3 linked regions of the Homo sapiens genome follow. The protein of the gene in region 1 interacts with the protein of each later gene in a biochemical or structural test. Each region holds a gene or a part of one and is shown on either strand. Other genes may lie near its edges.

Region 1 (3,838 bases):
TTGAGAGTGTGATTTAGAATTCTCATCTACGTAACTAATGTTTGAATATTACCAAATTAAAAAGAGAATATTTCTTTTAATGAGCAAATATTTCTTTCTTTTAATAAGCGAATATTTTTCTTTTAATGAGCAAATACTTTGCATTAAGCCCAGCTTAGCATTATTCATTATGCCATTTTAGGCAGTGATATTTTAGAACAAAACCTTGGGAAACAAGATCTGGTATATATGTGCTGGTCATCTCATGTTTGGAAATCTATCCATTTGCTGGTAGGCACATCTTAATTTACCTAGTTATACCCATTACAGCATGATAGGTGCTGCTTTTAAGTGCTTAAAGTTATTTGGGGCCATTCAGAAATAATCAGCTTCCCTAACCTGTGAAAGTGGGTTATCAGTAATGTATATGTATGTCATGTCCCCTCTCGTTAAAGGAATAAACAAAATACTAAAACCATTGGAACTTTCTGGTGATAGTCAGATTTTTTGAGAACGTTGTGATAAATTTATAGGATAGCTTTGGATGTTTAAGTCTCAGCCAATGCATTGGTCATTTTTAATGGTTTTCTTAAATTTGTGCAGTGTCCATCTGACCATTTGAAAATGTACAGCCTGATGTACTTTGAAATTTTTCTGCATTTGGGATATATAGATAGATTAGATTAGATAGATAGTCTTGTCCTTCGCAGCAACATAGATAGAGCTGGAGGCCATTTTTCTAAGCAAAATAACACAGGAACAGAAAACCAAACCACATGTTCTCACTTACAGTTGGGAGCTAAGCAATGAGAACACGTGGATACTAGAAGGGGAACAACAAACACTGGGGCCTACTTGAGGGTGGAGGGTGGGAAGAGGGAGAGGATCAGGAAAAATACCTGTGGTGTACTTTACTTATTACCTGGGCAACAAAATTACCTGAACACCAAACCCCTGTGACACCCAGTTTACCTATATAACCTGCACATGTACCCCTGAACCTTAAACCCACACACACAAAAAAACGCTTATGGCAAAGATAAGTCTAAATTTTAGAAAGATTGGTTTTGAAGTGATGTGACAGTCTACTGGAGAAGAAACTGACCATACAGTTAGTTCTGCATTTCCTCTACAGGAATACTATTAGTAAAAGGAAACATAGAATGTTTACAGCTTTATCTCATTGTCAAAGAAGGAAGAGGTAGGACCTGGAACTATTGGTTTGAAATAAAATATTTTACTTTCTCATAGTGGGCCTGAAAGGAAATTAGGGCCTCACAATGCTTTGGCTTTGTGGACAGGAATTAGGAACTGTAGATATGGGGTGAAATATCTATATAGCTGGGTAGGGGAGGATATGGTCCTTTTTTTATAGAATAAAGACATGTCAATTGTATAGGTGAGAAGCCAGAACTAATGGAGGAATCTGCATTTAAATACCAGCGTTGAACAGGAAGAACACTAGGATTATTGGGTTGTAAATGACCTAGATTACTTTTGTGAGAAAATATTTTCAGAGATAAATTGGGTTGGCAGTGGCACAAAATCAGTTTGAGAGTAAACATGGAAATTGGACATTGGTTTAAAGTGTGTGGAAAAATATCTTGAGTGATAGGCTCAGGTATAAACCGGTATTTCGACTGTATTTGGAAGTTGGGAAATGCTTTGTGAAATATGTCAACATACTGGTTGCAAATGCTAGGAATTGGGCATAATATTGGCGGAAAATAAAAATCACAAGAATGTCATATCATTCATTACCTGTAAAATAAAAATGAATTAGTTAAAATTAAACTTTCCTCATTAAAAGCAACAAGCTTTGACTTTCTGGTTTTAAAATTTATTTGAAACTTAATATTTATTATTCCATAGCATTATGTGGTGATAATTACACGTCTTGGGGATATCACTTTTGTTATTTTTATTTTTAGGGAAGCACACTGAGAAAGCGGAAGATGTATGAGGAATTCCTTAGTAAAGTCTCTATTTTAGGTGAGTTGTAAAGTGTGTTAACTTTGCTAGTATGTGAGATACCCCTGAATTAGAATTGGATGGACTTGGGAAAAGCCTTCTGAAAGTATAATTGCTACTCATTCCCCCTGAAAAGACAGAAGGGCTGAAAGTCCTTCTGACTGTGGACATTCACAGTTATTTCCTCTGTGACTTCCCGTCTCTCTTGTTCCATCATTGAGTTGATTGGTTCAGAAAAGTGAGTACTTCCAACAATACATTTCCTCTGTGGAAAGATTAGGTATCATTTGCTGGCATCCTCTGAAAACATGCCAGAAGTTTGTTGAAATTTAGAGTAAAGCAGATTAATTGAAGATATTCTTTTGTGCATTTTGTTATGTGGACTTGGAGATGTTAGAACTTGTTCTTCATGAAAGGGGAATGGGGATTTTTATAAGGTAACAGGCTTCTGCCATTGTTTATTACAGTGAATTTTTCACCTCTTCTTTGTCTTTTCTTTGAATTGGTTACATATGCTTTGTGTTTTGGATAGTAGTTTGGCCTTTGGGAATAAAAGTTATTTTCTAGTTCTTTTTCATAAAGTAAACCAAGAATTTAAATAGATTAAATTATTTCTATGAAACTTTGGAACGATATGGATGGGGAAACTATGACTTTTGAGTATTGTAGTTGTAGGTTTGATTTGCATTGATGGCAATCTTCAGGAATACTTAAGGATTACATTTTCTTATTCCCTTGCCATTTGGTACAGTTGGTATAAATTAACCTAGCCACTGGGCTACCGAAGTAAGGATCTAAGGGCTATCTGCAGGCAGTATGAGAATCCTGCTCAGACTAGAGGTAATTGAAGACAGGTACCACTTTTAATCTGAGACACTACTAGAATGTTGAATGGGCATGGCTATTTGGTTGAATCTCTTTATACTTTCTTTTTACCTTTATAACAGCACCAAATAATACAGAGCAGTTATTTTGATTCTTGTCTTTCAGAGTCTCTGGACAAGTGGGAACGTCTTACGGTAGCTGATGCATTGGAACCAGTGCAGTTTGAAGATGGGCAGAAGATTGTGGTGCAGGGAGAACCAGGGGATGAGTTCTTCATTATTTTAGAGGTAAAGAACTCAGAATTTAATACTTGAATTTTAGAGGTAAAGAACTCAGAATTTAATACTTTAAAAAGTTGTACGCTCTAAGAGGGAAAGAGTGGGCTAATTCTGAACTATAGCTTTAGTTTTTAAGAATACCTGACCATTTTATTTTAAAATTATCTTTTACTTTGAAATGCTGTTGTTTGGTTTTCTGCCAGGTCACTATATTTTTAAATGAGTTTGAGTCAGAATTCTTGAAGGGCCCTAGACATGAAAAGCCAAATTCTAAAAACCATTTAACATAACAAACTGTGATGATTCTGCACTATTCTTGTTAAAATGCAAGTGTTTGGGCTATTTGGCAAATAAGGATTAAAGGTAATTATTTAAATTTGAAAAATTACTGTGTTTGTATATCTCCACATTCCATGGAAATGTATAGCAGATACTCTTGCTAAGCGGATCCAAGTGGCAGATTTCTATGAATGTGGCTCCATAGTTGCTAATTGATTTTATTTAAATCAGGGGTCAGGAGACTGTAAAGGGCCAGGTGGTAAGTAAGTTAAGCTTTGTGGACCATAGGGTTTCATTCGCAAAGTCTCAACTCTTGTCATAGTGCAAAAGCAGCCACAAATAATATGTAAATGAATGTATGTGGTATTTCAGTAAAGTTTGATTTGCGAAAGAGACAGTGAGCTTGGATTTAGCCCTTCATCTACAGTTTGCTAACCCAAGTGTGCACCCTTTAAGCACCTTAGCTTGATACGAAGAACCTCGCTAGCAGGAGATGCTGGTAAAAT
Region 2 (5,384 bases), on another chromosome or scaffold:
CCAGCACCTTGATTTTGGACTTCCCAGCCTCCAGAACTGTGAAAAATAAATTTCTTTTATTTTTATTTCTATTTTTTTTTGACAGAGTCTTGCTCTGTCGGCTAGGCTGGAGTGCAGTGGCAGTCTCAGCTCGCTGCAACCTCGGTCTCCCAGGCTCAAGCAATTCTGCCTCAGCCTCCCGAGTAGCTGGGATTACAGGCGTATGTCACCATGCCTGGCTAATTTTTGTATTTTTAGTAGAGACGGGGTTTTACCATGTTGGCCAGGCTGGTCTCAAACTCCTTACCTCAGGTAATCCACCTGCCTTGGCCTCCCAAAGTGCTGGAATTACAGGTGTGAGCCACCGCGCCCAGCCGAGAAATAAATTTCTGTTGTTTATAAGCCACTTCAGTCTATGGGAGCTTGTTATAGGAGTCCTAATGGACTAAGACAAGTGGCCTTTTATCATATTGAGGATGTTCCCATTCTATTCTTGGATTGCTGAGAGGTTTTTGTTGTTGTTGTTGTTGTTGTTGTTGTTTTTGAGATGGAGTCTTGCTCTGTTGCCCAGGCTGGAGGGCAGTGGCACCATCTCAGCTCACTACAGCCTCCGCCTCCTGGGTTCAAGTGATTCTTCTGCCTCAGCCCCCTGAGTAGCTGGGATTACAGGTACACGCCACCAAGCCTGGCTAACTTTTTTGTATTTTTGTAGAAATGGGGTTTTACCATGTTGGCCAGGCTGGTCTTGAACTCCTCACCTCGTGATCTGCCCGCCTTGGCCCCCCAAAGTGTTGGGATTACAGGCATGAGCCACTGCGCCTGGCAGAGAGTTTTTTTTTTTTTTTTTTTTAAATCATGAGTGGATGTTGATTTTAGTCAGGTATTATTACTGTATTTATTGAGATGATCATATGGTTTGTTTCTGTGTTAATGTGATGAATTACGTTAACTTATTTGCGAATGTTGAATCATCTTCCATTCTGTGGTTAAACCTCACTTGGTGATGGTGTATTATCTACTATCATTTTTATAAATTGGTGAAATTTTTTTTTTTTTTGCATCTATGTTCATGAAAGATACTTTTTCATATAATGCTGGTTTCATAGAGTTGCAAAGTGTTTCTTATATTTTTGAAAAAGAATTTATTAGGATTAGTATTATTTGTTTTACAATTTTTTTTAGAGTTTGCATGTGAACTCTTCTGGTCCTAGAGTTTTCTTTGCTGGAAGGCTTCAAAGGATAAGTCCAATTATCCTTTAATAAATACAGGATTATTAGGGTTATCTATTTCTTCTTGAAAGCTTTCGGTCTTTGTATGAATCACTTTCACTCACTAAGTGAGCGTTAGTAGTTTTTGTCTTTCAAGGCATTTGTCTTATTTCATTTATTCGTTGTCATAAAGTTGTTTCTTAATTATTTTAATGCCTATAACGTCTGTAGTGGTGTCTTTCCTTTCATTCTTGTTATTAGCAGTGTGACCTCTCATTTTTATTTGGTTCTAGGTTTATTTTATTAATCTTTTCAGAGTCAACTTTTTATTTGATTGCTTTTTTTTTAATTGTTAGTTTTATTGATTTCTGCTTCTTACTATTTCTTTCTATATGCTTTGGGTTTAAATTCCTCTATGTTAATTTATTAAGGTGTAAGCTTAGGTCATTGACTTGAGACCTTTTTTCTTTTCCTTCCAAGCACTGCCTGAGGTGCTTACACAAATTTGATGCACTGATTTTTTTTAAAGTTCTTATGTCACTTCCACTTTGACCCATGAAGGTTGCTGTTTAATTTCCAAATATTTGGTGATTTTGCATGTCTCTTTCTTTGTATAATTTATTTTAAATTCTTTGATATTTGTTTTATGACCAGAATATGGTTACTCTCAGTAAATGTCCCATGTACACTTCAAAATAATGTGTATTCTGCTGTTTAGCAGTGGAGTATTCTATATCAAGTTGATTGATGATGCTTGTTAGGCCTTCTCTTTCCTTACTGAGTTTTTGTTTGTTTCATTGATCATTGAGAGAAGAGTTGAAGTCTCCAAGTATAATGGTAAGTTTGTTTATTTCTCCTTTTCAGTTTTTGCATCATGTGTATTGAACCTCCTGTTAGGTGCATGTAAATTTAGGATTGTTAAAACTTTTTGGTGAATGAACCCCTTAATCATTATATAATGCCCTCTTTATCTCTGATAGTATTCCTCATTCCAAAGTCTACTTTATCTAATATTAATACAGCCTCTCCAGCCTCCTTTTAGTGTTTGTATATTATTTTCCATCCATTTAATCTGTCTTTTATTTAAAATGGGTTTGTTCTAGACAGCCTTTTTTAATTCATCTTGAAAAATCTGTTTTTACATTGAAGTGTTTAGACTATTTACATTTAATGTAATTTTGATGTAGTTGGATTTAAATATACAATCTTAATTGTTTTCTACTTATGTGCTCTCTGATGCCTATTTTTGAGTGCATTTTATCTTCACCATTGGCTCACTACTTACACTCAACTTTTCCTCTCTTTTAAAAAGTTAATTGGCTTCTCTGTGATTTATATTTTACATCTTTAATAATAGACCATATGGAAGCAATACTATACCACATTTTATATAGTGTCAGAGCTTTACAACAGTATATTTACAATGTATATTTACAATTTCTCCTTATCTTTTGTGCTATTACTGTTTTACCTTTTACAAATGCCATAAATGCATAATACCTTGTAATATTTGTTTTATTCCTGTGCTGTCTAGTATGGTAGTCATTAGCCAGTGTAGCTATTTAAATTTGAATTTAAAGTAGTTAGTACAAGTTAAATTAAAATTGATTTTCTGTGTTATAGTGGCCTCTTTTCCAGTGCTTATTCTTTCTGCATGAAGAACTTCCTTTCACATTTCTTGGACTTCAATTCTACTGGTAACAAAGTTCCAAAGATTGTTTCACAAATACTTTGTTTCACTTTTTCTTTTGAAAGATTTTGCTGGATATAAATTTATTGTTCACAGTGTTTTTCTAATATTAAGGATGCTATTTATTATCTTTTGACTTGCACAGTTTCAAATAAGAATTTGGCTGTGATTCTTATTTAGTTCCTTTTTTCTGCTGTCAGTATCAAATATGTTTTATCAGTGGTTTTTAAATTTTATTTTATTTGTTGTTTTTTTTTGAGACAAGGTCTCGCTCTGTTGCCCAAGTGGAGTGCAGTGGTACAAGCTTGTCTCACTATAGCCTTGAGCTTCTAGACTCAAGCAATTCTCCCACCTTAGCCTCCAAAAATCCTGCATTTGCAGGCCTGAGCCACTGTGCCCAGGCTGTCATTGGTGGTGGTAGCGGTTGTTTTTGAGACAGAGTCTCACTCTGTCGCCCAGGTTGGAGTGCAATGGCGCCATCTCAGCTCACTGCAACCTCTACCTCCCGGGTTCAAGTGATTCTCATGCCTCAGTCTCCCAAGTATCTGCGATCACAGGCTCCCGCCACTACGTCTGGCTAATTTTTGTATTTAACAGGGTTTCACCATGTTGGCCATGCTAGTCTCAAACTCCTGGCCTCAAGTGGTCTGCCCTCCTTGGCCTCCCAAAGTGCTGGGATTACAGGCATGTGTCATTTGGTTTTTTTGTTGTTGTTGTTTTGTTTTTTGTTTTTGAGACAGAGTCTTGCTTTGTCTCCCAGGCTGGAGTGCAGTGGCGCCATCTCGGCTCACTGCAAGCTCTGCCTCCCAGGTTCATGCCAGTCTCCTGCCTCAGCCTCCTGAGTAACTGGGGCTACAGGCACCCGCAACCATGCCTGGCTAATTTTTTTTGTATTTTTTTAGTAGAGACGGGGTTTCACCATGTTAGCCAGGATGGTCTCAATCTCCTGACCTCGTGATCCACCTGCCTCTGCCTCCCAAAGTGCTGGAATTACAGGTGTGAGCCACCATGCCCGGCCATATCATTCGTTTTTTATAGCAGGTTAAAGATGTTAACATCTTGGGATATGTGTACATTTTTGTGTGTTTTGTATTTATACTGCTTTTGTAGGGGGGAATCACTGAGCTTCTTGGGATTTATGATCTTTTAAATAATGTATGAAAAATTCACAGCATCTTTCTCTTCTAATGTTTCCACTGCCCGCGACACCCCCCCGCCCTTCCCCCCCCTCCCCCTGCTGGTTTGCTCTCTTTTTGTGGGGTTCCAGTTAAACTCATGGCAGCTCATTTAATGCAGTCCACAATTCTTGGAGGCTCTGTTTTGGTTTTTGTTGCTGTTGTTTTTTAACATGTTTCTTTTCAGTTAAATCACTTTTTATCTAGGCTTGGATCATTTCTTTTGACTTATCTTTTTCTTTTTTTTTTTTTGAGACAGTCTCAGTCCATCACCCAGACTGGAGTGCAGTGGTGTGATCTTGGCTCACTGCAACCTCTGCCTCCCGACTTCAAGCGATTCTCCGTACCTCAGCCTCCTGAGTAGCTGGAATTATGGGCGTGCACCACCACGTCTCACTAATTTTTTGTATTTTTAGTAGAGACGGGTATCACTATGTTGGTCAGGCTGATCTTGAACTCCTGACCTAAAGTGATCCACCCATCTTGGCCTCCCAAATTGCTGGGATTACAGGTGTGAGCCACTGAGCCTGGCCTGATTTATCTTGAGCTCACTAAAAGCTTCCTCCCCTAGTTTTTTAATGAGCCCATAGAATGCATTCTTCATTTCTGTTAACTGTTTTTTATTTTTTGCATTTCCATTTTCATCTCTCCTGAAATTTCTCATGAGTTGATGCATGTTCCTACCTTTGTGCTAGAGCCTTTAAAAGGGTAATCATAGTTATTTTAATTTTCTTCTCTGATAATTCTGTTAATTGCTTTATCTGGTTCTGTTTGTTGTTGTCTCTTGATAAAGAGGGTTTTTTCCTCCTCAGCTTTTTTGTCTTGTAATTTTTGACTGAATGGCAGACTTTATATGCAGAACAGTAGAGATTGTGGCAAATAATTCTTATGTCTGGATGTGAGTCTGCTTCTGCATCTGCTAGGCTTTTAGTGTGGTGTGGGGTTGATTCAATCTAATTCGTGATTGAGATGGGTTTGGATTTCGTTTCTGTGGTTGCATTGTGCTTAGTGTTACCTTGTGCTTAGTGTGACAGCTGAAGTGCCTGATTTTTCTAAGTGTTCCTACTTCACTGTCAACTTTCAGCTTTCTCTGTGTGCCCATACCTCAGTGGAGAAGTTTCTCCACACACTGTCATTATCCCCAGCAGTAGACTGTTGTTTCTTGATGCTGACTAGCCTGGAGATGGAGGCAGAGTTTTCTCTGTCTTCCTTATCTGTACTCAGTGTTACACAAGCCCTTTGTCTCTTGTTTTTGGGTATGGGCCAATGATGCTGTACCTTCTCTCCATGGTAGCCAAACTCTGCCTCATATCTTTTTTTTTTTTTTTTTG
Region 3 (5,384 bases), on another chromosome or scaffold:
AGGGCAGAAACTGGACAGGAGACCCAGGGCTACAGCCCTTGAAGCCCAGCTCAGGAGGAGAGAAAAACTGAGAGCAGCAGGGACAGTGGGAAAGTTGGCCCAGTAAGGAAGCAGCTGATGTGGCAAAGCCAACAACTATTGTACATCAGGATTTATTTTCCAAGGGCTAGTAAAGAGAACTTGGGCAACAGCCATAAGCTACATGACCGGAATGGAGAATCCAGAAGAGTAAACCAGAGTCTACTTTTTCTCAGAAAAGCCAAGACTGGGTCTGGATCACAGGCCAAACATCTCTGGGTTCCAGAGCCAGAGCGGGAAGTCCCTTTCCTGCAAGAAGACTAAAGAAGGTGCTGGTCCAACCCATGCTGGGTACTCAGAAAGAAGAGAAAACAATTGCAGTTTTTATCAGAAGAGAAGGAGCAGGATTCTACTCCTGGACTCATTCCTTGGGCAGAAATAGGAAGAGACAAAAAAAAAAAAAAAAAAAAAGGAAGAGGATAAAGTTCTTTCTGAGCACCAAAAACATTGAGACATTGGAATCAAAATGCAGAGAGCTCTGTGTCCTCCTTTGCCCTGCTGCCACCAAGCCTGTACCTACAGGAGGGGTTGCACGAATAAACGAATGTTCTTATCTCTGCATGTGTTCAAACAAAGGCTGAATGTCAGAACAGTTAAGATTGAATCAGGTGAACTTCCAGGTGCCCTCAGATCCTTCAATCCCAACAATTCTTAAATAGTTGACTTAAGTATCTACCTATAGATCTGTCTTTTTCAATTTTTGCCACAAAAATGACTCCTGGCTGTGAAGAATGGCAAAGAGGAAAGGCAGCCTGACTCCTGCAGCCTCACACGTGAGTCAGATGCAAGTTGAAGAGACAGATGACTCTGGCTTTGTCATACAGACATATCAGGATGTGTATGATACTATTTGTACAGGAAGATCATTTGCAGTGGAGGGAGTATTATGGCTAGAAAAGCTTGTTCCCACATTTTTGAGTTGAGGAAATCAGTTGAGTTGAACAGTGGAAAAGGGAGAAGGCCCTGGCTGATCACCATGATTTTCTTCCTTTAAAGTTTCTGTAGCAGGATCTTTGTATATATGCCTATGTGCTGGTATGGTGAAGAGGAACAGATTATCAGGAATCCGCCTTTGACAGAGACATTTGAATGCAAACATCATTGCTTGAAAGGTAGAGGAAGCCTTCTCCCCAGTCAGAGGTAAGCACACAAGTGGATGGATGCAGGGAACCTGCTGTTCCCCTGGACTCACATCAAGCTATGTAGGCCCACTCCAACACAGTGCAGTTGGGAATGGCCCCTTCAGGGTTTGGACAAGGAGAAAGCAGTCCCCAACCCCTGCATTGATGTGGAACCTGCCAAAGGATGATTTGCTTCTGGAGTGCCAAGTGCAGGCACACCAGGCAAGAAAATGCAACTGAGGAGCAGTGGCCTTTTGCTAATAAGACCATCGTCTCTGGAGTGAAAGGGCCGGTGGCTTGTTGGTTGTAGTGGCAGTCATATGTGTGCTCAGCATCTCCATTGCGTGGATGGCTGGATCAAGCTGCCTCTTTGGATCTTGGTTAATCAGTGGTGAATGGGTGGGTAAGTTTAGAATTCCGGCTAAATATGTCTGGCTTCAAAGACGTATTCTGCTCAGAAGCTCAGCTTCTGTTTCATCCTAACACTTGGCTGCTGAGTTGCTCTGTGTTTAAATTCTAGGCTTTAAGTGGCAGCTGTGGATCCACTCCTACCACCCCGCCATGTGGTTTTGCTATAGATAGTACAGTCTGCAGCTGGGGTAAAGTCAAGAGGACTCAGCCACGTGTTTCTAAGACTGTTTTTCAGGAAAACTCAGCAAGACAGTTTCGCTGTTGTTGCCCAGACTGGAGTGCAATGGCGCGATCTCAGCTCATCACAACCTCCACCTCCTTGGTTCAAGCGATTCTCCTTCCTCAGCCTCCCTAGTTAGCTGGGATTACAGGCATGCACCACCACGCCCGGCTAATTTTGTATTTTTAGTAGAGACAGGGTTTCTCCATGTTGGTCAGGCTGGTCCGGAACTCCCAACCTCAGGTGATCTGCCTGCCTCGGCCTCCCAAAGTGCATGAGCCACTGCGCCCAGCCAAACTCAGCAAGTTTTTATTGAGCATCTGCTGTGTTCTCTTGGTATAGCTCTCCCAGTAAGGAGTAAACATAATAATTCCTGGTGCTCTCCCGCTCCTTTCTGTCCCCTTTTGATTGCAGTGGACCTGCTCTGGTTCATCACAGGGAGAGAGCTTCATGCTATTTTAGAGACCCCACAAGGGATTAAAAAACTAAGGAAAGGCCGGGCACGGTGGCTCACGCCTGTAATCCCAGCACTTTGGGAGGCCGAGGCGGGTGGATCGCGAAGTCAGGAGATCCGAGACCATCCTGGCTAACATGGTGAAACCCCGTCTCTACTAAAAATACAAAAAAAATTAGCCAGGTATGGTGGCGGGCGCCTGTAGTCCCAGCTACCAGGGAGGCTGAGGCAGGAGAATGGCATGAACCCTGGAGGCGGAGCTTGCAGTGAGCCGAGATGGTGCCACTGCACTCCAGCCTGAGCGAGAGTGAGACTCTGTCTCAAAAAAAAAAAAAAAGGAAAAAATTACCTTCTAAAGTGGTATCATCATATTATCAGAAAGTTCTAATATCTTGTACTGATTGGTGGGAGCCAATGTCTCCTGGTTCTGCTTTGTTTTAGGGGACTCTACAGTACCACCCCAAGGGGCAGGGCTAACAGCCTCTTTCCCATTAGCCTTGTCTCCTCACTCCTGACTACAGCCTCCCTCTTAGGGATGTCTACATGGGACCCTCTTACACCAATCTATACCCATGATCAGCCTCAGGCAGACCACTGCGGTCATAGCACAGGACAACTTGCTCTACCAGGCAGGGCAGGACACCAGCACCTGGTCTAGACAGATCTTTGAAGTAGCTGTATTGGGAAAGGAAGGAAAATTGGCCCAATCCCACATTTCCCTTCAGAACCACTAACTGCTGCTGTCAGAGGAGAACTTGTTAAATAAAGTTCCCACAGGCCAGCCCTGTTTTTCCAGCAGCTTCCATTCTAACATACCATTATGGTCGAAAAATACATGAGTGTAAATGGTAATAATGAAACCTATTGTAAAAGTCCACTGGATATTTCTAGGGCTCAGGGCTAAGACACAGGAACCAATTAACCCATTTATGCTGGAGGTTACAAACTTTTTTGTGAAAAATCAGACTTTAATGATGATCTTGAGCAGTAGGATACAAATAATTCCTAAAAGGTTAGCGTCCCAATAATGGAACATGAGGCATAAGTGGGTTAAAGCATCTGCCCAGTAGCTAAGGGCCAAGTTCTGGTGGCACATGATCCTGGGGTTGGAGTCCAGGCTCTGCCACTCAGTAGCTGTACGTGTGACCAGGTTACTTAACCTCACCAAGCCTCTTTTTTTTTTGAGACGGAGTCTCGCTCTGTTGCCCAGGCTGGAGCGCAGTGGCATGATCTCAGCTTACAGGTGCCTGCTACCACGCCCAGCTAATTTTTTATATTTTTAGTAGAGACGGGGTTTCACTGTGTTAGCCAGGATGGTCTCGATCTCCTGACCTCGTGATCTGCCCACCTCAGCCTCCCTAACCTCACAAAGCCTCTTATTTCTTTATCTGTAAAATGGGTATAATAGTAATCTGTAGCACAAAGGGTGTTGGGCAAATTCTATAGAATAGTGCATGCGGTGTGCTGGGCCCTGGTGTGCCATCAGCACTTCCTAAAGGTGAACCTTTATTACAGTTCCAGCAGCATTCAAAATACCATGCCAATTCAGACTTTTTTAAAACAAATCTCATGCAGACATTACACAGTACTCTTCAGCCTCTGACCCTTTACCCTTTAGCAGTGGATCTCACTGTTATCCTGTGACTGTGTAATTTTGAAAGTGAATGGAAACACCTGATGATGAGTCAACCAGATCTGAAGTGGATTAAAGGGACACTGTCAGGGTGCTGGCACCCTAAGTGGGCCTTATACTAAAAAGCTTCAGTTCCTGCTAAAAGCACCTTCTGATCCTTGACTACAGTGGGGTTTGATGGCATACCTCCTTCCTGTGAAACCCAAGTCAAAATCCTTTTATCGGCCTGCCTGATTCTGTATCCTTGGACGCATGGCTGCTGTGGAAGTTGGCCCAAGATGTGTTCTTCCCAGCCTGAGATATCTCGTGGATCAGACTGACCGAAGCATCTGGGAGGTGGGCTGGAACAGTCCCAAGAAGGCCGGATTGTCCTCCCCCAAAATAAAGACAGAGATCATCCGTGTTTCTTCTCCTGTACGCGAACCTGGTGGATGCTCCAAAATCGAACCAAAACACTACCATGAATAAGAGATGACTGCACTCCTCTGACACAACTTCCTATTTTTGTCTTTGTTCTTCAAAAGGTCTAAACAGTTACTAAATCCTGTTATGCTGAAGGTGGGGAAGTTAGAAAAATAGAACATCTCCTGACAGGTAGAAGACGGGATCCTTGGAGGCGTTCCTTTGGGATTTCATTTTACCTCCATCTCGTTTGTTGTCCAGTTTCCTTTTACGAGGATTAAGCAGGCATCCTGCTGGCTAGAATCCTGTGGCTTCCCTGGAGCCTCAAATTCTTGTCTAACCACATTTCTAGTCATGGTTCCTGCAGGAGACATCCACTCAAACCACCTGTTACTGAGGCACCAAGCAACCCTAGAGGCAGTTGGCCTCTGGCCCTAGCAGGAGCAGGATCTCAGGCCATCCCACCAGGCAGCCAGCCTCAGCCCCTCACCGCAGCCTTGCAGAGTGGGCTCTGCAGAGAAGCCGATTTGTGGACAGTGCCACCCTCCATCCTGAGTCACATGGCTCATGTGGTTGCAGCCATTTTTGAGCCAGGAGGGGGCCCCTTCTAGGTGCAGCTGACCTGGGAATGCTAGCCAGAGCGGCCAGAGGAGAGGAGTTGGGGGAAGGAGAGAGGTATCTCTTGCTGGCCGCGGGATCTCATCTCCTTTTGTCTTGTTTAGGTTTCTCCTCTGCCTCCTACTTAAAGGTCCATGTTAAAACCCACCACGGTGTTCCCCTTCCCCAGGTCTCCAGGCACCAGGAGCCCATCCTGAATGGGGGAGCAGCGTTCCACTGCGCCAGGACCTATGGCAACAAAGGCAAGCGACCCCTTGCTCTGCACTTTGCTTCTCTGCGCAGACTGTGTTGTGGGGGCGCTGGGCTGGGCGTGGGGAGGCGGGAAGGCTGCCGGCTTTCTGGCTGCCTTGAGGAGACTCAGAGATCTGAGTGGCAGTGGCCTCCAGGACAAAAGTCACAGTGGGTATCTCACTCCAGGGCAGTGAGTGAGGCTTTAGGGCACTGCCG

What was found. The genes of interacting proteins can lie anywhere in the genome.
Region 2: the proteins of PRKAR1A (region 1) and PJA2 form a complex in vitro, tested with the Homo sapiens proteins (one study listed by BioGRID).
Region 3: the proteins of PRKAR1A (region 1) and PATZ1 form a complex in vitro, tested with the Homo sapiens proteins (one study listed by BioGRID).

Annotation. Positions count from the first base shown.
Region 1 is NC_000017.11:68,525,930-68,529,767, forward strand, and holds part of PRKAR1A (cAMP-dependent protein kinase type I-alpha regulatory subunit), read left to right. Parts: intron 1-1,910; coding exon 1,911-1,971; intron 1,972-2,940; coding exon 2,941-3,062; intron 3,063-3,838. UniProt on the Homo sapiens protein: Regulatory subunit of the cAMP-dependent protein kinases involved in cAMP signaling in cells.
Region 2 is NC_000005.10:109,399,210-109,404,593, reverse strand, and holds part of PJA2 (E3 ubiquitin-protein ligase Praja-2), read left to right. Parts: intron 1-5,384.
Region 3 is NC_000022.11:31,328,582-31,333,965, reverse strand, and holds part of PATZ1 (POZ-, AT hook-, and zinc finger-containing protein 1 isoform long C), read left to right. Parts: intron 1-5,041; coding exon 5,042-5,179; intron 5,180-5,384. UniProt on the Homo sapiens protein: Transcriptional regulator that plays a role in many biological processes such as embryogenesis, senescence, T-cell development or neurogenesis. Interacts with the TP53 protein to control genes that are important in proliferation and in the DNA-damage response.